Homo sapiens: one gene and its partners. The protein of the gene in region 2 purifies or fractionates together with the protein of the main gene of each other region. This does not show direct contact. Each region holds a gene or a part of one and is shown on either strand. Other genes may lie near its edges.

Evidence for each region.
Region 1: the proteins of FPR2 (region 2) and FUNDC2 purify together in Homo sapiens (affinity purification with mass spectrometry; 2 studies listed by BioGRID and IntAct, with this or other methods). This does not show direct contact.
Region 3: the proteins of FPR2 (region 2) and RTN2 purify together in Homo sapiens (affinity purification with mass spectrometry; 2 studies listed by BioGRID and IntAct, with this or other methods). This does not show direct contact.
Region 4: the proteins of FPR2 (region 2) and HSDL1 purify together in Homo sapiens (affinity purification with mass spectrometry; 2 studies listed by BioGRID and IntAct, with this or other methods). This does not show direct contact.
Region 5: the proteins of FPR2 (region 2) and MFSD8 purify together in Homo sapiens (affinity purification with mass spectrometry; 2 studies listed by BioGRID and IntAct, with this or other methods). This does not show direct contact.
Region 6: the proteins of FPR2 (region 2) and TMEM87A purify together in Homo sapiens (co-immunoprecipitation; 2 studies listed by BioGRID and IntAct, with this or other methods). This does not show direct contact.
Region 7: the proteins of FPR2 (region 2) and TUBGCP4 purify together in Homo sapiens (affinity purification with mass spectrometry; 2 studies listed by BioGRID and IntAct, with this or other methods). This does not show direct contact.

What each region holds. Positions count from the first base shown.
Region 1 is NC_000023.11:155,050,844-155,054,343, reverse strand, and holds part of FUNDC2 (FUN14 domain-containing protein 2), read right to left. Parts: intron 2,675-3,500; coding exon 2,543-2,674; intron 1-2,542. UniProt on the Homo sapiens protein: Binds directly and specifically 1,2-Diacyl-sn-glycero-3-phospho-(1'-myo-inositol-3',4',5'-bisphosphate) (PIP3) leading to the recruitment of PIP3 to mitochondria and may play a role in the regulation of the platelet activation via AKT/GSK3B/cGMP signaling pathways.
Region 2 is NC_000019.10:51,764,180-51,767,605, reverse strand, and holds part of FPR2 (N-formyl peptide receptor 2), read right to left. Parts: intron 1-3,426. UniProt on the Homo sapiens protein: Low affinity receptor for N-formyl-methionyl peptides, which are powerful neutrophil chemotactic factors. Binding of FMLP to the receptor causes activation of neutrophils.
Region 3 is NC_000019.10:45,490,548-45,494,047, reverse strand, and holds part of RTN2 (reticulon-2), read left to right. Parts: intron 1-669; coding exon 670-888; intron 889-3,500. UniProt on the Homo sapiens protein: Inhibits amyloid precursor protein processing, probably by blocking BACE1 activity. Enhances trafficking of the glutamate transporter SLC1A1/EAAC1 from the endoplasmic reticulum to the cell surface.
Region 4 is NC_000016.10:84,131,678-84,135,177, forward strand, and holds part of HSDL1 (inactive hydroxysteroid dehydrogenase-like protein 1), read right to left. Parts: intron 1-3,500.
Region 5 is NC_000004.12:127,944,674-127,948,173, forward strand, and holds part of MFSD8 (major facilitator superfamily domain-containing protein 8), read right to left. Parts: intron 1-3,500. UniProt on the Homo sapiens protein: Outward-rectifying chloride channel involved in endolysosomal chloride homeostasis, membrane fusion and function. Conducts chloride currents up to hundreds of picoamperes.
Region 6 is NC_000015.10:42,212,191-42,214,433, forward strand, and holds part of TMEM87A (transmembrane protein 87A isoform 1 precursor), read right to left. Parts: intron 1-2,243. UniProt on the Homo sapiens protein: Potential monoatomic ion channel gated by mechanical force, implicated in normal touch sensitivity through the generation of mechanically activated currents.
Region 7 is NC_000015.10:43,395,101-43,398,600, reverse strand, and holds part of TUBGCP4 (gamma-tubulin complex component 4), read right to left. Parts: intron 3,495-3,500; coding exon 3,444-3,494; intron 3,019-3,443; coding exon 2,913-3,018; intron 1,388-2,912; coding exon 1,280-1,387; intron 564-1,279; coding exon of another isoform or gene 561-563; coding exon 422-560; intron 1-421. UniProt on the Homo sapiens protein: Component of the gamma-tubulin ring complex (gTuRC) which mediates microtubule nucleation.

The DNA of each region.
Region 1 (3,500 bases), on a different chromosome or scaffold from region 2:
GATGCACATCAGGAGGTAGAGACAATGGCTCTTTGAATCAAGGACAAAGAAGGAGAGTTCATGGGGACAGTTATGGCGAAAGAGTAAAGCTGCACTAAATAAACTGGTTACAGAGGCAATTCTGTTTCCAATTTTGCTCCTTCCATCCTCTTTGGCATCTACCCTCCAATAGAGGCTTCTCATTTCCTGAAGTCTCTCCCCTAAATCTCTCCATCCATGCATTCCCCCCTGAAACCTGCTCCCAGGTAGATGCTATAAATTCTCATTCTCACACTTCACCACATCTAAGATGATTAACAGGTGACGTTCTTATTTCCTTAAGTTCCCAAAGCTTCCCACCTCCCCTCTACCCTCCTGGAATAGCTCCCGGTCATCTGAGACTCAGTGCATACATTCAGACACTCTTTATGGCTCCTTAGTCTGTGCTCTACCAATCTCCTGACCACTCCCCACCCTTCCAATTTCAGAGACAATTTTGATAAGTGGCTCAGACTTCCTCTTTCTCCTAAGTGTGATCACCACCTTAGAAAGTGTTCATATGAACAAGACATCCAACATCCTGGCCTGATCATTTCTTGAACTCAAGTACGGTGACTTCCATCCCCAAACCACCTAAGCTACTCACACCCTGACATTCCCCTAACATTTTTCACACTACCAACCCCATCCTCCTAGGACCACTGTCTTCTAACCCTCCAGTAAGCCCTTACTCCAACGATGCCTATGTCTTCCTGCCTCATTTCCACTCCTCCTCCATCTCTCCTGGACCTCTACATTTCCTTAAATGAAGCACTTTTGTCATCTGCCATTGGGGTGAAGAAAAAAAATCATACAACTTCCTGAGAAAATTGGTTTCGTTTATTATTTTTACTACTCTTTCTTCAACTTGCTAATTTGGCTTTCAACTCCACCACCCCACCAAACTGTTCTCACTGAAGTCATCTTGTTGGTAAATACTGAACTAAATCTTCATCCTGTTTCTCAAATCAGACCACCGGCTCTATGAGTAGGAAAACCAGCCACTACATCCCCAGGGCCTGTGACAGTGAACTCAATTCCAAATTATCTGGTTACTTTATAACAAACTCCCTCTGTGAGTCAACAGTTGGTTCTAATCAAATATTAACTTTATGCTTTTTATTATATACACTTCCAGTATTATTTTTAAAGTTTTCAGCAAGGTGCCATGGCTCACACCTGTAATGCCAGCACTTTGGGAGGCCGAGGTGGGAATACTGCTTGAGCCCAGAAGTTTGAGACCAGCCAGGACAACACAGGGAGACCCTGTCTCTCCAAAAAATTTAAAACTTCACCGGGTGTGGTGGTACACACCTATAGACCCAGCTACTCAGAAGGCTGAGGTCAGAGGATCGCTTGGTTGAGGCAACAGTGAGCCATGACTGTGCCACTGCACTCCAGCCTGGGCAACAGAGTGAGACCTCTCTTACAAAATTTTTTTTTACTCACTGTGGTGAGTCACTGTGCCCAGCCATGCATTATTTTTATAAACATTTGAATAATAAAGTTTTCATGAAATAAAAAATGTAACTTTCCTAACTTTGAGGAGAGACAGAAGGAAGAAAGGAAAGAGAAACTATCTGGGCTCTGGGCTCCTGTAGATACCCATCTCTGCCACCTTCCCACTCTGGGTAAAGGCACCAGCTTTGACCAGCCACTTGCCAATCACCAGCACGAAGAGCCACTCACAACATGAGAAGCCTGAGGCGCACACAGGGTATTTCTCCTCCCCTGCACTCAATCTGTCTGTTTTCCCTGTGAGGCTAGAGTGAGCTAATGGGAGAATCTCTCATCACTCCAGGCTACAGAAAGTACCAGCTATCTTCTTGACACCCTGATCCTTGTTTATTTCTCCCCAGTTCAGTGTACTTATTTATTTGCAACATCTGACATATTTCTAAAGGTAATAAAGCAGCAGCAAAAAATATCCTTTTAAAAAGGAAGGACTTCTCCTGTCCCTGCAGTGCCAGGTCATAATCTAACTTGGCTTTAATGAACAAGATCAGGGGTTAGCAAACTACAGCCCATGGGCCAAATCCAATCTGAACCTGTTTTTAAATAAAGTTTTATTGCAACACAGCCACATCCACTTATTTAACATATCATCTATGGCTATTTTGATGATATACAGTGGAGTTGAATACTTGTGACATTTCCACTAGTTATATGCAGAACAAGCAGAGTATGAATGTTTCAGAGATATGCGTGTATAGCGACAAAATGGGACTCAAAATAATTATACTGGCCATATATCCTTCCCACCTACTATGCTGCCCCACATTCCTACAAGAACTGGTTAAAGGGATAATCACTCCACAAATGTGCACAGACAAAGGTCACCAAACAATTATCCAGCTTTTAAAAATGTTCTGAAGTGATGATAATCCAAGTTAGTTTTGTCTCATTACTCTAAGTTCTTTGTAATGCTTAAGCCCTGTCCATCACTGAGATATGGTACAATAGGGTTAAGCCCTGTTTTTGTCTGCACTGTTCACACACTACACGTGAACAATGCAAGTCTCACCTCCTCAGCTTTGCTCCTGACCTCAGTAGGTATCTGATTGCTCTTACGGATCTTCAGCTGCTCTTTGGCTTTCTTCATGTCCTTCTCCACTCGTTGCCAGTCAACTTTGATGTACCCAGTATGGTTTGCAAGCTACAGTATCAACAATAATGACAACAAGAAATGAGAAACAGATTTGTTATTTCTTTTAGTCAGGATAAATCCTGAAGTAGACTCTCGAAACCCTCTGACTTTCCATTTTTGGAGACATCTGCCATTTGATTCTTTGTATCATGATGACATCTACTCAGCATCCCCCCTATATGCGAAGCCATATGCCTGGCACTAGAAATAACTACTGGCAATTCTTTTAAATTATTTATACTCTTACAACCCTTTTACAAAGAGTTACATAAGATGAAAATCAAGGTGGGGGGTCAAGATGTAGGGTGAAGAGATGGACCTTACAGCCAATACAAATGTTTCCAGAGAATGACTCTGACAATGTGCCCATGAGTGTCAGTTTCCTGACAATGTGAACAGAGCAAAGCATTCAGGCAGTTATTACTGTTGCTTAACAGGAAGAAATCTAGCATCTGGCCCCACAGAGATTTCTCATGAGCAAGTTCATATAAACGGATATTAAGAGAACCACATCCAAAGACACCTACAGCATATACCTATTTCCCTTGATAAAAACAGCAGGCACAAACACTAAAACTCAGTGTAAATCTGATTCAAGCATGTAGATTTTGATGATGGATTAATATCATCCTAGGAATGAAGAGAATGACTGTAGCCAATCAATCAATGCCCTATCAATATCACTTCTCTCTACCAAATTTTTGGCAATCTCAAAATATCTGAAACTAAAAGTCTTCACCTTGCTAGAGTCTCCTCCTGCATTGTTGCTCTTCCTCTAGGCCCTATTTTAGCTAATGGCACCACCAGTCACCCAAACAGACTAGAGAAAATACTT
Region 2 (3,426 bases):
AAACCACAATTGTGTTTAGTTACTCACCCTGCAGAGAAGGTGTCTTTTCTCCATGTTGGGAGTAAATCCTGACTAGTCTAATTAGCACTAACCAGAATCCCTTTTACTTTGCAAGGGATTGCTTTGGTAGTGGACACGTGACTAAATTGTGGACAATAACATTGTAAGAATATGACCCTTCAGAGCTTCTCAGATCAAGTTTTTTTGTTTTTGTTTTTTTCTTTTAAGAACAAAAACCCAAAACATGTAGTCCCTGCCTCTGGTCCGGATCACATCTGTAATATTTGTATCCAGTTCAACACAAAGTCCCACGTCACCTGAGCACATTTTCTTATGCCGTGGTCTGTGGACTTTATCAGAAACATCCAGGCTGCCTGTTAAAATTGTATTCATTATCCTTAGCAAACTAATGCAGGAACAGAAAACCAAATACCACATGTTCTCATTTACAAATGGGAGGTAAATGATGAGAACACATGGACACAAAGAGGGGAACACTGGGGCCTACCGGAAGGTGGAGGGTGAGGGGAGGGACAGGATCAGGAAAAATAAGTAGTGGGTATTAGGCTTAATATCTCAGTGATGAAATAATCTGTACAAGAAAACACCAGGATACAAGTTTACCTGTATAACAAACCTGCACATATACCCCTGAACTTATAATAAAAATGAAAAACAATTATATCCATAAATCTCATTCTAGAATCTGTATGTGTAAAAGCCAGGATGATTTGCTATGGCCATGAGAATTTGAGAATCATCTCAGACTGGGCTATTCAGCATCTTTAAGAGAAATAGCAATTCCATAGCACTTGTTCACATCTAATGCTCATAATAACATTGGGAAACAGCCATCACATCTGGGGGAATTCATGGCCCGGGGACTTCTGTAGTTTTTTTCAACATCATGCCCAGCCAGTCAGTGGAGGCAGCAAGATACGGAAACCGAGATGAACAACTCCAGAGCCACTGCCTTTGCATACGGAAGTCCTGCCTTTGAAAGGGATTCCCCCAAGATTACTAGGATAGGGCTATGCCTCAGTCTGGTGATTTTTAGCCTTCTTCCTTTTCCTTATTTCCTCCTTTTCTTCCTGCTATTACCAGTGAGTTTCACTGAGGTATTCCATGGGACGTTATTTAATGTAGCTCAGGGTTTCTCAACCTTGGCACCTTTGACATCTGGGTCTGGGTAATTCTTCGTTGTGGCAGACTGTTCTGGACACAGTAGGATGTTGAGCAGCCCCCCTGGCCTCTATCCACAGACACCAGTAGCAACTCCTTCTCCAGAAATGACAATCAACAGGTTCCATAAACATTGTCAAAGGTCCCCTCGGAGGCAAAGTCACCCCCAATTGAGAGTCACTGTTACAAAGAATACTGGGCTCAGCCAGATACGGTGGCTCACGCCTGTAATCCCAACACTTTGGGAGGCCAAGGGGGGTGGATTGCCTGAGGTCAGGAGTTCCAGACCACCCTGGGCAATACGGTGAAGCCCCGTCTCTACCGAAAATACAAAAAATTAGCCGGGCCTGGTGGCATGCACTTGCAGTCCCAGCTACTCGGGAGGCTGAGGCAGGAGAATCGCTTGAACCCGGGAGGCGGAGGTTGCAGTGAGCCGTGCCACTGCACTCCAGCCTGGGGGACAGAGCGAGACTCTGTCTAAAATATATATATATACTGGGCTCTGAAGTCAGCTACATCTCTCTTCTAATCTCATCTGTGATGTCTCCTCACTATGAGTTTTTAGTCAGTGATATCTCTTTGAGCCTCAGTTTTCTGCTCTGCAGAACGAGGACAATTTTATGGTGAAGTCTAACTTTCAGGTGAGGATTAAGTGAGAATAGATGTGGAAATCTTTTAGGCTAGACTGAGTATATCTATGACAAATGGGAACTCTTGGCCCTCACCAGGCTGTGTGCTGTGTCGTGGGGCTCAATCCATTATGAAGTTCAAGGTCAGGACAAGAACGATGCTCATAGCAATAGTTGTTTCTACTTATGAACATTACCCACACACCAAGAGCTTTTCCTTTAACCCTATCAACGCCTCTCACAGGATCTGTGGATGGGCTGTGTTAATATGTGTGAACACTGAGCACTCCTGAGACACAGTGAATATTGATTAATCTTAGTGATATTAGGTTGGTGCAAAAGTAACGCTGTTTTTGCCATTGAAAATAATATCAAAAACCACAAGTACTTTTGCAGCAGCCTGATAATTAGTATAACCATTGTACAGATGAGGAAGTTAAGACTTAGATGGGCTGCGTTAATTGTTCAACGTTACCAGGTAGAAAGAGTAGAGACAGAATTGGAGCTCAGCCAGATTGATTACAACAGAATTGTGCTGTTAACCCTTTTCCACCCCATAGTTCCTCAACAGACTCAGATTTTCTCTATCCACACTCCAAACATTCTACAAGACACTTAGAAGACATGATCTATCCATAATTTCAAATTCATTTTAAAATGTTGATACAGGCTGGGCGCAGTGGCTCACGCCTGTAATCCTAGCACTTTGGGAGGCCAAGACAGGTGGATCACTTGAGGCCAGGAATTTGAAACCAGCCTGGCCAACATGGTGAAACCCTGTCTCTACTAAAAATACAAAAATTAGCTGGGCATGGTGGTGGGTGCCTGTAATCCCAGTTACTTGGGAGGCTGAGGCAGGAGAATCACTTGAGTCTGGGAGGCAGAGGTTGCAGTGAGCCAAGATCGTGCCACAGCACTCCAGCCTGGGTGAAAGAGCGAGACTCTGTCTCAGAAAAAAAAAAATGTTGATGCAACAAGGAAGGATGATTGTGCAATGACAGGTGAGGACAAATTAACAAGGCAAAAATTGCAAAGTTTTGGGTCCACCCTAGTTGTAATGTAAGGAGGAGAACTGCGAACCACAGATGATACCTGTACTGATTATGAGGTCTGCTATTTGGTGAGTCCTTAATATGTGCCAGTCACTATATATTTTATCATCTCTGATTACAATACCCTTGCTTTGGGACAAGTGCTGTCCTTGTGTAACAGGTAGGAAAGTACGGCTCAGAGAGCGGAAGTGACTTTCACAATTATCGAGGGTTGCAATTGAATTTATGACCACAGATTTCAAATGAAAACTCAGCAGTTCCTCATTAGGTTACTCTACTTCTCCAGCGCACTCGCTATCCCACACCTTAATTATTTCAGTCCTGCTTTCTCCAAAAAGTACCTCATTTACTCTGTTTTTCCCACTCTCAGCAGATGCCCTTGACTGACATTATAATGAGAAAATGGTAATAACTAGATGTGAAATTTTCAGCCGGTCCTCCCCTGACCCTCAGTCTACCTGCCTCTGTCACTGTGAATAAAGACTTCTTGTTCTTTCCAATAATTTCCCTCCCTGCATTGGCCCAGGATGCCCTCTCATCTTCCCACAAACTTTCCCCCTGCA
Region 3 (3,500 bases), 6.3 Mb from region 2:
GACGTGATATCACATCTGGCTAGACGTGATAAACTCCGCTTTTTAAAAAAATTTCCCCGGCCGGGCGCGGTGGCTCATGCCTGTAATCCCAGCCCTTTGGGAGGCCGAGGCGGGCGGATCACTTGAGGTGAGGAGTTCGAGATCAGCCTGGCCAACATGGTGAAACCCCGTCTGTACTCGGGAGGCTGAGGCAGGAGAATCGCTTGAACCTGGAAGGCAGAGGTTGCAGTGAGCCAAGATCGCGCCACTGCACTCCAGCCTGGGCGACAGAGCGAGACTCCGTCTCAAAAAATAAAAATAAAATAAAATAATCCTCCCTCTTCTGGAGTGCTCCTCCTAGTGGCTGATTTTGGACAGGCCAAATCCCTGAAAAAATACAGTTCTCTCCTTATTTAGATGTGGCCGTAGAATATTTATAAGTAAACTCTGTGCCTTTTAAAAACTCTTCTTTTTGGCCGGGCGCAGTGGCTCATGCCTGTAATCCTAAACACTTTGGGAGGCCGAGGCGGGAGGATCCTTTGAAGCCAAGAGTGCAAGACCAGCCTGGGCAACATAGGGAGACTCGATCTCTATTTGAAAAAACAAACAAAAACCCTCTTTTTCCTGACCACATCTATTGGCCAGTTGTAAAATGACCCAGCCTTACTTTAAAATATGCTCCGCCTCCAGGAACAGCTATGGAATGGTTAAAGACATCATTGCTTTTGGCTGTTTACAAGACGGTTCCAATTTTGGAATTGTCCCCACCTCTGTGGACAGCCATTGGCTGGGTCCAAAGGGGCCCCACCCCCCCTACTCCTGTCCTCCGGGTTCTACTGAAGTGGGCAAAATCCCCGAGAAGCAGCGGTGTCCCCAGCCTCTCACTCGGAGCCGATATGGGGAGTAAAGGTGGGCTTGCGGAACGGGCTGGACGGGGGCTGAGGTCGGCGGAACGGGGTCCAAACTCGCCCTTATCTCCTGCACATCCGGAGCATTTTTATTACTGATCTGCTTCCGCAGCGCTGCAGGCTGGGGCTAGGGGGCCGAGGGGCAGTATAGGGAGGACCCAGAGGGAGCATGGGGTCCCTTCTCCTTCGAGCCAGCACTTTGGGGCCCAGGAGCAGGGAGGACCCCCTCCCCCAGCCTCGGCCCCAGGCAGCGCTGTCACTCAGGGGCCAGACGGGCCAGAACAGCTGCGGGGAGGCCCCCTCCCCCCAGCGTGCCTAAACTTAGCCCCCGCCTCAGGCGACCTGGCCCCTCCCCCATCCACCGGCGCCGGCCACTAGGAGCCTGCCTGGGAGGGCCCTGCTATGGGGAGGGAGGGGCTGCCCTATTTGGAGGTAAATGAGAGGAGATGCATTGGAAGGAGACGGAAGTGAGGGGTGAGCCTCTAAGAGGGACCGGTCGGAGGGGTCAGTTGGAGGGAGTGTGGGAGGATAGAGAGGATCTGGAAAGAAATAGAAAGGTACTGAGTTCCTGGTTTTCAGGACTCAAAGGAAAGCAGATTACTAAAGTTTCTTTTTCTTTTTAAGCCACAGAGTCTCCCTCTGTCGCCCTTTCTGGAGTGCAGTGGTGGGATCATAGCTCACTGCAGCCTCCAACACCTGGGCACAAGTGATCCTCCCACCTCAGCCTCCCAAGTAGTTGGGACTAGAGCCACAGGCCACCACGCCCTGCTAATTTTCTTATTTTGTTTGTAGAGACAGGGTCTCACTATGTTGTCCAGGCCTCAGGTGATCCTCCCGCCTCGGCCTCCCAAAGTGTTGTGATTACAGGAGTGAGCCTAAAGTTTAGACAGATGAGATGAAGGTTGGGGTACAAAGGTCACTGGTCAGGGCTGAGGTTGGGTTTAGGAGGTGTGTTTTAGGGTCTCAGAAAGGGGTCAGAAATTTGAGTTAGGCCCTGGAAAGGAGTATGGCGTGATTAATACATTTAGGACTTAGAAACATGTGTTGCTAAGGGTATCAAGGGGATATCACTTTACACCTGACAGATTGGCAAAAGTTAAAAAGAACTGCAACCCACTGCAGGGCAGGATGCTGGGAAAAGATCTTTCTCTTGCTTCTTGTGGAAATAAGAACTGTTATGGTCTTACTAGTAAGCAGTGTTTCAAAATTTATGACATTAAAAAAATATATATGACCGAGCGCGGTGGCTCATGCCTGTAATCCCAACACTTTGGGAGGCCGAGGTGGGAGGATCACTTGAAGCCAGGAATTCAACCTGGGCAACATAGCGAGACCCTATCTCTACAAAACATTTAAAAATTAGCCAGGTTTAGGAGGTCGAGGTGGGCAGATCACAAGGTCAGGAGATCGAGACCATCCTGGCTAACATGGTGAAACCCCGTCTCTACTAAAATACAAAAAATTAGCCGGGCATGGTGACGGGCGCCTGTAGTCCCAGCTACTCGGGAGGCTGAGGCAGGAGAATGGCGTGAACCCGGGAGGCAGAGCTTGCAGTGAGCTGAGATCGCGCCACTGCACTCCAGCTTGGGCAACAGAGCGAGATTCTGCCTCAAAAAAAAAAAAAAAAATTAGCCAGGCCAGGCATGGCAGCTCATGCCTGTGATCCCAGCTAGTTGGGAGGCTGAGGCACAAGAATCTCTTGAACTCGGGAGGCAGAGGCTGCAGTGAGCTGAGATCATGCCACTGTACTCCAGCCTGGGTGACAGAGGAAGACTTTGTCCAAAAAAAAAAAAAAAAAAATTAGCACGATATCGTGGTGCCACCTGTAGTCCCAGCTGCTAGGAGGCCGAGGTAGGAGGTTTGCTTGACTCTGGGAGGTAGAGGCTGTAGTGAGCCATGATCACGCCACTGCACTCCAGCCAGGGTGACAGAGTGAGACTCTGCCTCTAAAAATAAAAAAAAAAAAAATGTGGCCGGGCGTGGTGGCTCACGCCTGTAATCCCAGCACTTTTGGAGGCCAAGGTGGGTGGATCACCTGAGGTCAGGAGATCAAGACCATCCTGGCTAACACGGTGAAACCCCATCTCTAACTAAAAATAACAAAAAATTAGCCAGGCATGATGGCACATGCCTGTAATCCCAGCTACTCGGGAGGCTGAGGCAGGAGAATCGCTTGAACCCGGGAGGTGGAGGTTGCAGTGAGCCGAGATTGCACAATTGCACTCCAGCCTGGGCAACAAGAGCGAAACTCTGTCTCAAAAAAAAAAACAAACAAACAAACCAAGGTCAGGCGTGGTGTCTCACGCTTGTAATCCCAACACTTTGGGAGGCCGAGGTGGGAGGATTACTTGAGGTCAGGAGTTCGAGACCAGCCTGGCCAACATGGTGAAACCCCATCTCTACCAAAATATAAAAAATTAGCCGGGTGTGGTGGAGCCCTCCTGTAATCTCAGCTACTCAGGAGGCTGAGGCAGGAGAATTGCTTGAACCCAGGAAGCGGAGGTTGCAGTGAGCCAAGATTGTGCCATTGCACTCCAGCCTAGGCAATAGAGCGAGAATCCGTCTCAAAAAAAATAAAAACAAAAACAAAACACACACACACACACACACACA
Region 4 (3,500 bases), on a different chromosome or scaffold from region 2:
CTAATTTTTTTTTTTTTTTTTGAGACGGAGTCTCGCTGTCGCCCAGGCTGGAGTGCAGTGGCGCAATCTCGGCTCACTGCAGGCTCCGCCCCCTGGGGTTCACGCCATTCTCCTGCCTCAGCCTCCGGAGTAGCTGGGACTACAGGCGCCCGCCACCTCGCCCGGCTAATTTTTTGTATTTTTAGTAGAGACAGGGTTTCACCGCGTTAGCCAGGATGGTCTCAAACTCCTGACCTCAGGTGATCCGCCACCCTTGGCCTCCCAAAGTGCTGGGATTACAGGTGTGAGCCACCATGCCTGGAGATTCAGCCAATTTATGATCTCACCATTTAACATCCGTAGCTTATAAAGTTACTTTCTTCCAAGGAGACTAATCAACATAACTACCAGAAGTTACCAAATTCCCACTAAAATTCAGGTACTACACTACATGCTGTGGCTACAGAGATAAACACAATATGCTCTGTGCCTGTAACATGCTCCTAGTCTAATAATAACAAACACAAAGCTTCTAATTCATACAGCAGAGGTACATGTATTTCTTTGCTTTATTCATAATCAGCAAGAATGGAGGACCTACTACCTGTGTAGGGACAAAGGAGATGAAACAGAGGTGGCACTAAGACATGGCCTTGGCCTCAAAAGCTTACAATCCACTGGAGACAAAACTCAGCTTTCAAAAACCTTTACATCAATTAAAAAAAAAATTTTTTTTAAAGAGATACCCTCCAAGCTTGGAAAAATGGCTTCTCAAATGACAATAGAGGGAGCACTCCTCCATCTTCTAACTTAATTTGTAACCATTATGTTGCCTGGTCTCTTACATTTGAGGAAAGAAAAGTCCAACACAACTCTGTTGAGTGTCCACATAGCAAGTATATACTAAGCACCTACTATGTTCTATGTACTGTGATTCAAAGGATTCACAGATGAACTAAATGACCGTCCCTAGGTGAAGACGCAGACATTTAACAAAATAATGTAAAATGCCACATGATGTGGTAGGTGTGTGCCTGCAATCAGAGATAACCCTGCAGAAGTAGACAAAGGCCAGGCATGGGGGGTCTGGCCACAGACCGAGTGAGTGGACTTCATATCAGGCTAAACCAACCGTGTGCATCCTGCGAAAGACAAAATATCAAAACAACTGCAATAGACTACACTTATATTACAGGGAACTCAGATACACACAAACCCAAGGACACAGCTTATATTCTAAAAAGAACATGATTTTAAGCCAAAAGAAAAAGAAATATAAAACTTCTGGGGGTGGCAACTTTTGAAGAAATCCCTTTAAAATAGAAAAAAAAAAAAAAGTCTGGATACTAAGAAAATACCCAACAATAGCAGCACAAATTAGCCTAAGTTTGAGAAAGAATGGGGAATTCCCTCCTACTCCACTGCAGTGTAATCTGAGCTCAACAAAGTTTTGCAAAGTAAAAAAGGAACCAAGCAGAAGAAAACAAATGAACCACTGAAACGGAACACATACAAGAATGGCACCATATTGTGATAAAAGGCATATAAAATAATTTTAAAACTATTGAATAAATATATATAAATGTGTAGTGTGAATTACAAATCAACAAAACGTACACAAGAAATATGACTGAAAACTGAAGAAATGGAGAAGCAGTAGGATTCCTAAATGCCCTACGATAAGGAAACAATCTCTCTAAAAAAGAAAGTTTCATACTGGTACCGTATTAAGTTGATATTGCTGCTATATTAAGTTACCAAATTAAGCCAATGTGGCATTAAGTTTAAAAAATGTTTTCCTCAGCCGGGCGCGGTGGCTCATGCCTATAATCCCAGCACTTTGGGAGGCCAAGGCAGGTGGTCAGGAGTTCAAGACCAGTCTGGCCAAGATGGTGAAACCTCGTCTCTATTAAAAATACAAAAATTAGCTGGGCATGGTGGTGGGCACATGTAATCCCAGCTACTTGGGAGGCTGAGGCACAGAACTGCTTGAACCCGGGAGGAGGAAGTTACAGTGAGCCGAGATCATGCCACTGCGCTCCAGCCTGGGCGACAGAGTGAGACTCCATCTCGAAACAAACAAACAAAAAAGTTTTCCTCAAATGAAAAGTTGGGCCCCTTTATTCCCTACAGGTAAAATGCTGTCCACTGGGGCTCTGTGCACAGAAACTCACCTCCCACAATGAGAATGCCAAAGTTCATCATGAAAAGGAAACATTTTAAATTTGACTAAGTACATAAACCAAATACTTAAGCTAAAAACAACTAAAATAAATGCTCCTTTGGGGTAATTTTTCTTTATGAACCAGATTGGCTGAGATGACCTAAAATATGAGCTGTCTAGTTCAACAAAGTCTTTCTTTTTTCTGAGCAATCTTCCGTACAGCAGTCACCAATACCCCTTACTGCTCCCAAATCCTTTGATTGACAATCCTTTGAAATATATTCAAAGTTAGGGCCCCCCCTTCAGTGTAGCGAACGAGCATACCTGTTTCCAGATCTGCATGAGAGGAAGCCGCGCCACCACCCCTCCCACAACCCTCCTGCTGCTGGATATGCTGATGACGGGCACGGTATCAGAGTTTTCACACTGGCTGTAGCCCTTGAACAGTCATAAGTACTGGACTCCCAAAGACAGGCCCAAAACATTAATATCCTATAAGAACATTAAAAACTGACATTCCAGCCAGGGACGGTGGCTCACACCTGTAATCCCAGCACTTTGGGAGGCCGAGGTGGGCAGATCACTTGAGGTCAGGAGTTCAAGACCAGCCTGGCCAACATGGTGAAACCTGATCTCTACTAAAAACACAAAAATTAGCCGGGTATGGTGGTGACTGCCCAGCTTGGGTGGCTGAGGAAGGAGAATCACTTGAATCAAGCAGGCGGAAGTAACAGTGAGCCAAGATTGCACCACTGCACTCCAGCCTGGGCGACAGAGTTAGACTCCATCTCAAGAAAAACCCCAAAAAACAAACAAAAAAAACAACCGAGATTCTATGTTAGACCATCCTAAATTGTGAGTTCCGGAAATAACTCATAAAAAGTGTGGGTGCCTTTTGTCATAACTAATCAAACACAAGGCCATGAGGAAAGTAAATGCAAAAACAATTACCTGTATGTAATTACCTGTATGTACCAGGACCTCTCAAGCAAAATGTAATAAAATTGGGAATAACAAGCTATGACTAAAGAAACCTAGACACTTGGAATATTAAGCTTATTCTTCTAATAACAGGTAGGCATACATCTAGGCTGTTAAAACAGTGTTTTCAATGAAAAAATAGATACTACAGGCCAGCCACGGTGGCTCGCGCCTGTAGTCCCAGCACTTTGGGAGGCCGAGACGGGCGGATCACGAGGTCAGGAGATCAAAACCATCCTGGCCAACAGGGTGAAACCCTGTCTCTACTAAAAATACAAAAAATTAGCAGGGCGTGGTGGCGGGCACCTGTAGTCCCAGCTACTCAGGAGGCTGAGGCAGGAGAATGGCATGAACCGGGGAGGCAGAGCTTGCAGTG
Region 5 (3,500 bases), on a different chromosome or scaffold from region 2:
TTTTTGAGACAGGGTCTCACTCTGACATCCAGGCTGGAGCGCAGTGGTCCGATCACGGCTCAGTGCAGCCTCGACCTTTGAGGCCCAAGTGATCCTCCTGCCTCAGCCTCTTGAGTAGCCAGGACTACAGGTATGCACCACCATGCCCACCTAATTTTTTTATTTTTGTAGAGACAGGGTCTCCCTATGTTGCCCAGGCTGGTCTTGAACTTCCCGCCTCCAACTCTCAAAGCAATCCTCCTGCCGCGGGAGGGAGGAATTCTCCCACCTTGGCCTCCCAAAATATTGGGATTAGTGGCATGAGCCACCGCACTCAGCCAGATTACTTTTTTTCATATGTGGTAGGCTAAGCCAGGCGAAGTGGCCCATGCCTGTAATCTCAGCTACTCAGCAGTCTAGAGTAGAAGGATCCCTTGAGCCCAGGAGTTGGAGGCTGTAACACACTATGACTGTACCTGTGAAAAGCCACTGCACTCCAGTCTGGGCAACATAGGAAGATTCTATCTCTAATCTTCCTATTTAATGGCTTTTATTAAATTTTAGGAAATAAATTTAAACAAATATAGATAAGTGGTAGAACAATTTAATAAGGAAAACTATGACCTTTTGTTCCCTAAAGATATTTATTTATTTATTTTATTTTATTTATTTATTTACTTTTGAGACGGAGTTTTGATCTTGTTGCCCAGGCTGGGGTGCAATGGTGCGATCTCAGGTCACTACAACCTCTACCTCCCAGGTTCAAGCGATTCTCCTGCCTCAGCCTCCCAAGTAGCTGAGATTACAGGCATGTGCCACCACGTGGGCACAGCTAATTTTTATATTTTTTTTAGTAGCGACGCGGTTTCACCATGTTGGCCAGGCTGATCTCTTAACTCCTGACCTCAGGTGAGCTGCCTGCCTTGGCCTCCCAAAGTGCTGGGATTGTTGGTGTGAGCCACCGTGCCTGGTAATTCCCTAAAGATATTTAAAGTGAAAATATTTAGGTGCGTTTTTCTTTATGAAAAAAATAAGAAATAATATGCAAAAGTATAATGATACATAATATTTAAAGTTCTAGCCGTTAAAATATCTTTCATTTTAGGTACTCTGGTTTTCATTTTCTTCCTGTATTACCTTTAGCTTCATTTGTCATCTCTACTAAAATAGAAAATAATAATTTCATGTTACATAAAATTTTAATTTTCAAAAAAGCAATGAAAACTCAATTTTAATGTTAAATGTGTAGTGGTTTGAAAGCAAAACTTTTTTTTTTTTTTTTTTCTGAGACAGGGTCTGGCTCTGTCACCCAGGCCAGAATACAGTGGCATAATCTTGGCTCACTGTAACCTCAAACTCCTTTGCTCAAGAAATCCTCCCAACTCAGGCTCCCAAGCAGCTGGGACTACAGGGAGTAGCACCACCATACCCAGATAACTTTTTAAATTTTTTTGTAGAGACGAGGTCTTATATCGTTACCCAGGCTGGTCTTGAACTCTTGGGCTCAAGCAATCCTCCCAACTTGGCCTCCCAAAGCGCTGGGATTACAGGCACGTGAGTCACAGCACTGGGCCTGATAGCAAGACTCTTTAAAGAGTTTTCAAAATATCTGGAGAAAAGAGAGTACTTTTCAAAACTCAACATAGTATGCTGAGTAGACCTAATCACTACTAATATCCTTCTTTTGAGAATTTTGACTAAAAAGACTAAATGCCAAGAAATTAAGAATTTTGATACATGAAAATATCTTTTTAGTAGAGAAGACGTTGCTCCAGAATTGTGCCAATTCCAATGACTACCAGCATGGAAAGAATTTTTAGTGTAATGGGTAATAATTTCATGTAATATTATTTTCAAAATAGCAATGAAAATATGGCACTAAACCAGTAAAAAGTAAAATTTGTATTTCTTTTCTTCTTATATTCCTTTAAAAATATATTTTAGGAGAGCATTTTCAAAAAGTAGAAATTCGTAAAAACTGGGCTGGGCATGGTGGCTCACACTTGTAATGCCAGCACTTTGAGAGGCTGAGGTGGTGGGTCACCCAAGGTCAGGAGTTTGAGACCAGCCTGGTCAACACAGTGAAACCCTGTCTCTACTAAAAATACAAAAATTAGCTGGGCGTGGTGGTGCACGACTGTAATCCCAGCTACTTGGGAGGCTGAGGCAGGAGAATCACTTGAACCTTGGAGGTGGAGGCTGCAGTGAGCCAAGATTGCATCACTGACCTCGAGCCTGGGTGACAGAGCGAGACTCCATTTACAAAAAAAACCACAAAAATTAAAAAAAAAAACAATCCTAACAATCTAGACAATCTAGTAGGGGAGTTAAGTAAACTCTCTGTAAATACAGTGTTAGGACACTCCATATTAAGGGCTAATGATAAAGGGAAACGGGAGTATACAGGAAAAGCTTCTGACCCAAATTGTTGTGAGGGACAGTGAGAGAAGCCTTTCCAGGCCAGGTGCAGTGGCTCACATCTGTAACCCCAGCAACTGGGGAGGCTGAGGCAGGATCACCTGAGGTCAGGCGTTCGAGATCAGCCTAGCCAACATGCCGAAAACCCACTTCTACTAAAATTATAAAAATTAGCCAGGAATGGTGGCGGGTGCCTGTAATCCCAGCTACTTGGAAGGCTGAGGCATGTGAATCGCTTGAACCCAGGAGGTGGAAATCCCAGCACTTTGGGAGGCCGAGGTGGGTGGACCACCTGAGGTCAGGTAGAGATCAGCCTGGCCGGTATGGTGAAACCCCGTCTCTACTAAAAATACAAAAATTAGCCGGGTGTGGTAGCTGGCGTCTGTAGTCCCAGCTACTTGGGAGACTGAGGCAGGAGAATCGCTTGAACCCTTAAGGCAGAGATTGCAGCGCACCAAGATCACGCCACTGCATGCCAGCCAGGGCAACAGAGCAAGACTCCATTGCAAAAAAAAAAAAAAAAACAGAGAGAGAGAGAAGGCTTTCCAGAGGAGGTGACACTGGAGCAAAACCTTGAAGAGTGAATAAAAGACAGTGAGGAAGGAGAAAGGGGAGAGCAAAAGAAAGATGGAGAGAGGAAAAGCATTCCAGTAAAAAGGGAGACAAATGTGTAAAGACCTGAGGAGCCTGGGTTCATCCAAGTACCATGGATTTATCTAATAAATTGTTGGCTATACATCTAATATGGGACAAAGTTCAGAATCTAGGATAAAACACACATATGCACGTGTGAACACACACACACACACACACACACACACACACACACTCTCTCTCCAACCTCATAGAAAAACCAACAAGGGATAAACTGATAAGGAAGAATACACAAAAGAATTTAAGAATAAGTCATTAGAGTTAAGAGGAAAGCCAGGATAGAGAAATGTCACAGAAGCTAAGAGGTGGTGCCATGGTTTGAATGTGTCCCCCAAATTTCATTTTTTGGAAATTAATATTTAAATTAATATTATTAAAATATTGAAAGGTAGGACCTTTAAGAAGTGACTGTGTTACATTAGGTAGCTAGTTGGGTATGAACAGGGCAG
Region 6 (2,243 bases), on a different chromosome or scaffold from region 2:
TTAAAAATCATGTAAAAAATAAAATTACATTTAATTTAATATAGTATTTACAGTATCCCATTTCAATTAAAATAATTAATGTACTACCCTTAAATTTCCCTTCTTAGGCAATTTTATACCTTAGAGTTAATTTTCATTTTTCTTTTGCTTCATTTGCGAAGTACCTCTCACTATTGTATCACAAACTGACAGAACTACAAATCCTTTTTGAATATAATCAATCACATCAGATAATCTATAGATGTTTCCCTTTTTCTTAAAAATATCCTTTCCGATGCTCTCTGTTCTCCACTCCATCCAAGCCTGGTGCCCAGCTGCCAACCTGAGAATTTCTTACATCATACTGGGAATTTTTCTTGTCTCTGTGTTGGACCCTTTATTTCCTAGATCCCAAGTCTTTTTCCTAGCTTCCTCATTTTTGTGGAGAACATTTTCCCCTACTTTCTTCAGAAACTGCATATAGAACATCAATTATTTTACTTCTTGTGTGACTAGAAACATCTTTATTTTACCCTCATAATGATAGTTTAGTTGAGTACAGAATTCTAGGTTGAAAATGATTTTCCTCAGAATTCAAAGGCTTTGTTCTGGCTCCCAAAGATGTTGTTGAAGAGCCTTATGCCATTTTGATTCCTGGTCCATCATGTAAATTGTTTCTCCTGTAATTCATTTAAGGTCTTTTTCAGTTTTAAGGGAAAAAAAGGCCTTGGAGAAAGTGATGTCAGCAAGATGACAGAATAGGAAGCCCTGGACACTCCTTCCCTCTACAGACACACTGATTCAATAACACATGGAAAAATTCCCTTTGTGGGAAATCCAGAAACCAGTTGAGGGTCTTCTGCACTATAGGAAAGCATGAAACCAGCTGAATCAAAGTCGGCAGAAAAACCTGAGGCACCCTCTTGCCATAATTCTTCCCTTCCCATGGACCCAGCACAGTACCACATGATAGAGAGGAAACCCTCAGCTCCCAGCTTCTTTTTGCAGAGGGAAGGAAATGACTGGAATGTACATCCAACATTCTGACTTTTCTGGAACCTGCACGAGAGACTGTTTTCTGTCTTGCCTGAGTCCGAGAGCTAAAAACAAAGGGCCCAGGTTGGAAGTTGCTGAAATCAAAGTGGAAGTTTGGACTAGCAAGCATGAGCTCACTACAGCCGCTCCCCCAGCTCAGTGCAGAGTAAGCAGGTAGAATCCCCAACATCCCCAAATCCTAGCTTTTCCCTAGGGAGGAGAGATGGACTGTGAAAATGTTCCAACTTTGTAAGAGGTTACCTGAGGGAATGGTTTCTGTAGGGAATGGTTTGAAGCACAGATGGGACCAGTATATTTTAGGTGCCTGGGGCCAGTATGAACAAAAAAAGAGCTGGGCTATGCCACTGGCTCCAGGAGACCCATGATACAGCAGATAAACACAAAAGGGAGCAAGAGATTATAAATTCCTGGGGAGGGAAAAACCCAGCAAATCCCTCTGATTGGGAATACATATGCAGAAGTCCAGAAAAGACATAATACAGAGTGGGTTAGAGAGGCTATCAGAATGATTGATGAGGGTGTTCTCCTGTACAATGCCAGTCCATGAACACTGGAAAGGTAACTGTTTTTTTTTCTAATGCAATGAAACCAACACAAAGAATTAAGGAAAATAGAGAATCAGTGAAACATGGCCCAAACAAAGGAAGAAGATAAATCTCTGGAAACCAACCCCAGTGAAACAGAGGTATAGGAATTATTTGAAAGAGAATGCAAAACAACTATCATGAAGATGTTCAACGAACTCAGGAGAACAATGCATGAACAAAGTAAGAATTTCAATAAAAATATACAAAACATTTTTAAAAATATGCCAAGAAACTGGATAACCTAGAACAAAATATATAATTCCTAGAAGTATACAATCTACCAAGACTGAATCATCAAGGAATAGAAAATCCGGGGGGGGAACACACAACCTGGTAAGACCTACAACAAGATTCCATCAGTAATCAAAAACATCCCAACAAAAAAACAGCCCAGGACCAGATGGCTTCTTTAGTTGAGTCCTACCAGGTACTTAAAGACAAAGTAACACTAATCCTTCTTAAACGCTTTCAAAAAAATTAAAGACGAAAACATTTATTTGGAAGGAACTTCCAAACTTATTCTATGAGGCCAGCATTACCCTAATGCCAAAGCCAAAGACATGACAAGAAGAGAAACGACAGGCCAATATCCCTGATGAGCAGACGCAAAAATCTTCAATG
Region 7 (3,500 bases), on a different chromosome or scaffold from region 2:
AACAAACTGCTTATTATTTGGCAATTTAAAAAAATGATGGTTTGAAGTAGATATGCCCTCCCACTGATTCCAACTCCGTGTCTCATATCTGTGGCTTCACTTATTAATGTGATCAGTCTAGCCCCTGAAGGCATAAGGGTTTACAATTTTTGATTTACAGATTGTTAAAAACTAGTTGGGTGGCTCTCTTGCTCCCATTAATTTTTTTTTTTTTTTTTATGAGATGGGGGTCTTACTATGTTGCCCAGGATGGATTTGAAATCCTGGGCTTAAGGGATCCTCCTGCTCAGGCTCTGGACTAGCTGGGATTACAGGTGTGTGCCACCACACCTTGCTTTCCCACTAATTCTGTTCCTGCTAGTTTCTTCCCTTACAAGTAAGGTGGGTCATATTTACCTGTGAGAAACTCAGAAATACTCACTTTTCCAGGACAGCTGGGGTGAAGAGAATATGTAGTGGCCACTGTACTTTGTAGGAAAGACCTAGGGCTGCCCAGCCAGATGCAGGGGCTTCCCGGGGAGAAGTTTCCCGAGAAGGCCCTTCTCTTGCCTGAGTAGCATCTGCTGTGATAAAAGAAAAGAAAAAAAGAAAAGATAACAACTTGGTTAATCTAGAACCAGAGACTCAACAAGTGAATAACATTAATGAAACTAGAGCTCACAGGAGTTCAAGACCAGTCTGGGCAATACAGTGAAACCCCATCTCTACTAAAAATACATAAATTAGCTGGGCATGGTGGCACGCACTTGTAGTCCCAGCTACTCAGGGGGGCTGAGGCATGAGAATTGTTTGAACCTGGAAGGCAGAGGTTGTAGTGAGCCAAGATTGTGCCACTGCACTCCAGCCTGGTCAACAGAGTGAGACTCTGTCTCCAAAAGAAAAGCAACAGAGCTCAATGGAGTCTGCGATGTCAGAAGCTTACAGGGGACACTAAGAAGGGGGCAAGGAAACTTCTATGTGAGGTTCTCTTGGGAGGTCTTCTAGAGATTCTTTCCTCAGCCTTAAAATCTGGGGGCTGGAAATAAACAGGCACCATTCCAGCAGCATGACAAAAAAAAACACCAAAAAAACCAACTCCCCCAAAACATGGCCTGGGCATCTCACTTAGCCTCTCTGGACTTCTGGACTTTCCTTTTCTTCTCTATAGAATTATAGTACTGTACTAGCTGATTTCTAAGATCCAAAATCATATGGTTTCTGTGGCGGGGGATGGAAGCAGAGATGGGAAAATGGATGATGACCAGCAGGAACTCTAAGGTGGCAGGGAGGAATGGCAAACCTTTGTGCTCCTTTCCGTGATACTCGATTGTCAAGTGCAACAGAGGGAGAAGGTTGTCATCATCTAGCAATACCTTGTGTGCTGACTGTTGAAAGGCCACATTCACATCTGCAAGAAAGAACACGCAGGCTGACAGGGACGCTTGGCTACATAACAAACCCAGACTCCTCCAGCTTTCCACTTCTCCCCCAACATGCTCAATGCTAACAGCAGGACACAGTGGACATCTGTTTCATTTGTCTAACACCCATCCATCCTTCTCTTCTTGCTGACAAACTGCCTCTTGATTTTCCTTGGAGAATCATCCCTATTCAGTACAGTTCACATATTTCCAGTGGGTTAGTGCTAGACAACACCTGATTCTAGGGGTAGCTGGGTGATGTAGGCATGATCAAATGGAATGTAATACTCTACTTTGTTATGCTATATTGTTTAGGGATATTAACATGACCAAGCCAGGCCAATCCAGAGGCTCTATTCAGACTCTAAAAGAGTCCAGCTCTTTTTTCAAGATAAACAGGGGCTTAGTAGGATGTAAACTTGGCTAGAGACTATCTTGCTACCATACAGAGCAGGCCTGTCTGAGAAGAAAGAGGTAGAAGATGGAAAGAGACCAAGTCCTAAAGGTGCCACACCTGTCACTGGATCAAACTTAGCCGAAAACCATCATACGTCTGAGCTTTTCAGTTATGAGAATCAATACATTATTTCTTTCCTTTTGCTTTGCTTAAGTGAGTTTGAATTGGATTTTCTGATATTTGCAACCACAAGTACTTATATTTGTACTATATAAGTACAGTGGACATCTATGGTTTTACTGAGTTAGAAAAATGATCAGCCTGTGTGTATGTATTTTCTTTCTCACAGTTTCTTTTTTTGGATCCTTACCCAACTCTACTCATGCAGTATGAATGGGAATGGACATCAGTGGGTCAAGGGGTAGACTCTTCACTGAACTAGGCATAGCCTAGTGTCTGACCTCTTTGACTGATACAGGGATAGGGATGTGATGTGGGCTGGGCCAATCAAAACCTAGATAATTCCCTAGAATTCTCTAACTTGCAACAAGAGGGACTGGGTTCAGTTCCTTCCGTAGAGGACACTGTGAGGCATATTCCTGGGAGATGCTGTGATCATGTTTCCAGAAGGTCATCAAAGTGTTCACAAGAGACACAAACAAGATGTGGTGAATGAGTGAATGAGAGAGAGAGAGAATGAATCGAAGTTTTCCCACTGGGGTTTTAGATACAATAGCAAATCCATTTCCCTTTCCTAACTAGGCTAGTTCGGGTGAGTTTCCATCATTCACACCTAAAGAATTCTACTGCAAAACTACAAGCAGCACTAAGTCCCAATATGGCCCATAAAGTATATATGGCTATAATCCAATGAGAAAAAATACCTGGTTTGAAGGCCTGAACCAACTCTTCCAGGAAGGGTCACAGGCCAAGACACTGTTCCCAATGACCCCAGCATGAAGCCTACCTGCAAGAGCCTTCCATCTCTGGAAGCCACTGCTCTGTAACTCATCAGGCTGCTCTTATGTGGAGCAGGCCTTAAAAGGGTCAGCAGCAGCCAAGAAATACCCTGCAATGTCAATCAGTTGATCATTCTCAGGGCCACTGACAATTACCATGCTCAGTTACTGCAGTGGGTGGTGTTTTCAACATGTGTTGAGCTGTGTCAATGAAGGCCTGAAACAGTTCTCCACGTCCCAGAAGGTAAAAGTCTTTAATGATCTGAGGAAAGAATTTCAATTTACAATTCAGTAAAGCAAGGCAGGAGCTCCTCACTGTCCTGAGGAATTACATGTATACAGTAATTTCTAATTTCATCAATTTGAGCCCAAGCTACAAAAGATACAGGCATTTGGCATTTCAAAGAGGCATACTTAGTTCCGCATAGCAGGATGACTGGTGTGTATTTGGCATTATTTATTCAATAGCAACATAATTATATATATATGCCAGAAAAAAGTACACTCCCAAATCTTTGTATTATCGTAGATTTGTGGCATTAGGTATAGTTTGCTCACTTGGATAAGAACAAATGAGTTGACTCTGGAAGTCTGGGTATAGGCAACCAGTGCTCTCAGGAAACATCAGAGAATGCAAGTCACTGCCTACCAGCATCACCGTAAGAATTACAACAGCTAAGCCATTACCTTCAGCTGACCCAGTAAATCGGATTCTTCTACCATCAACTTCCAGAGATGCTATGA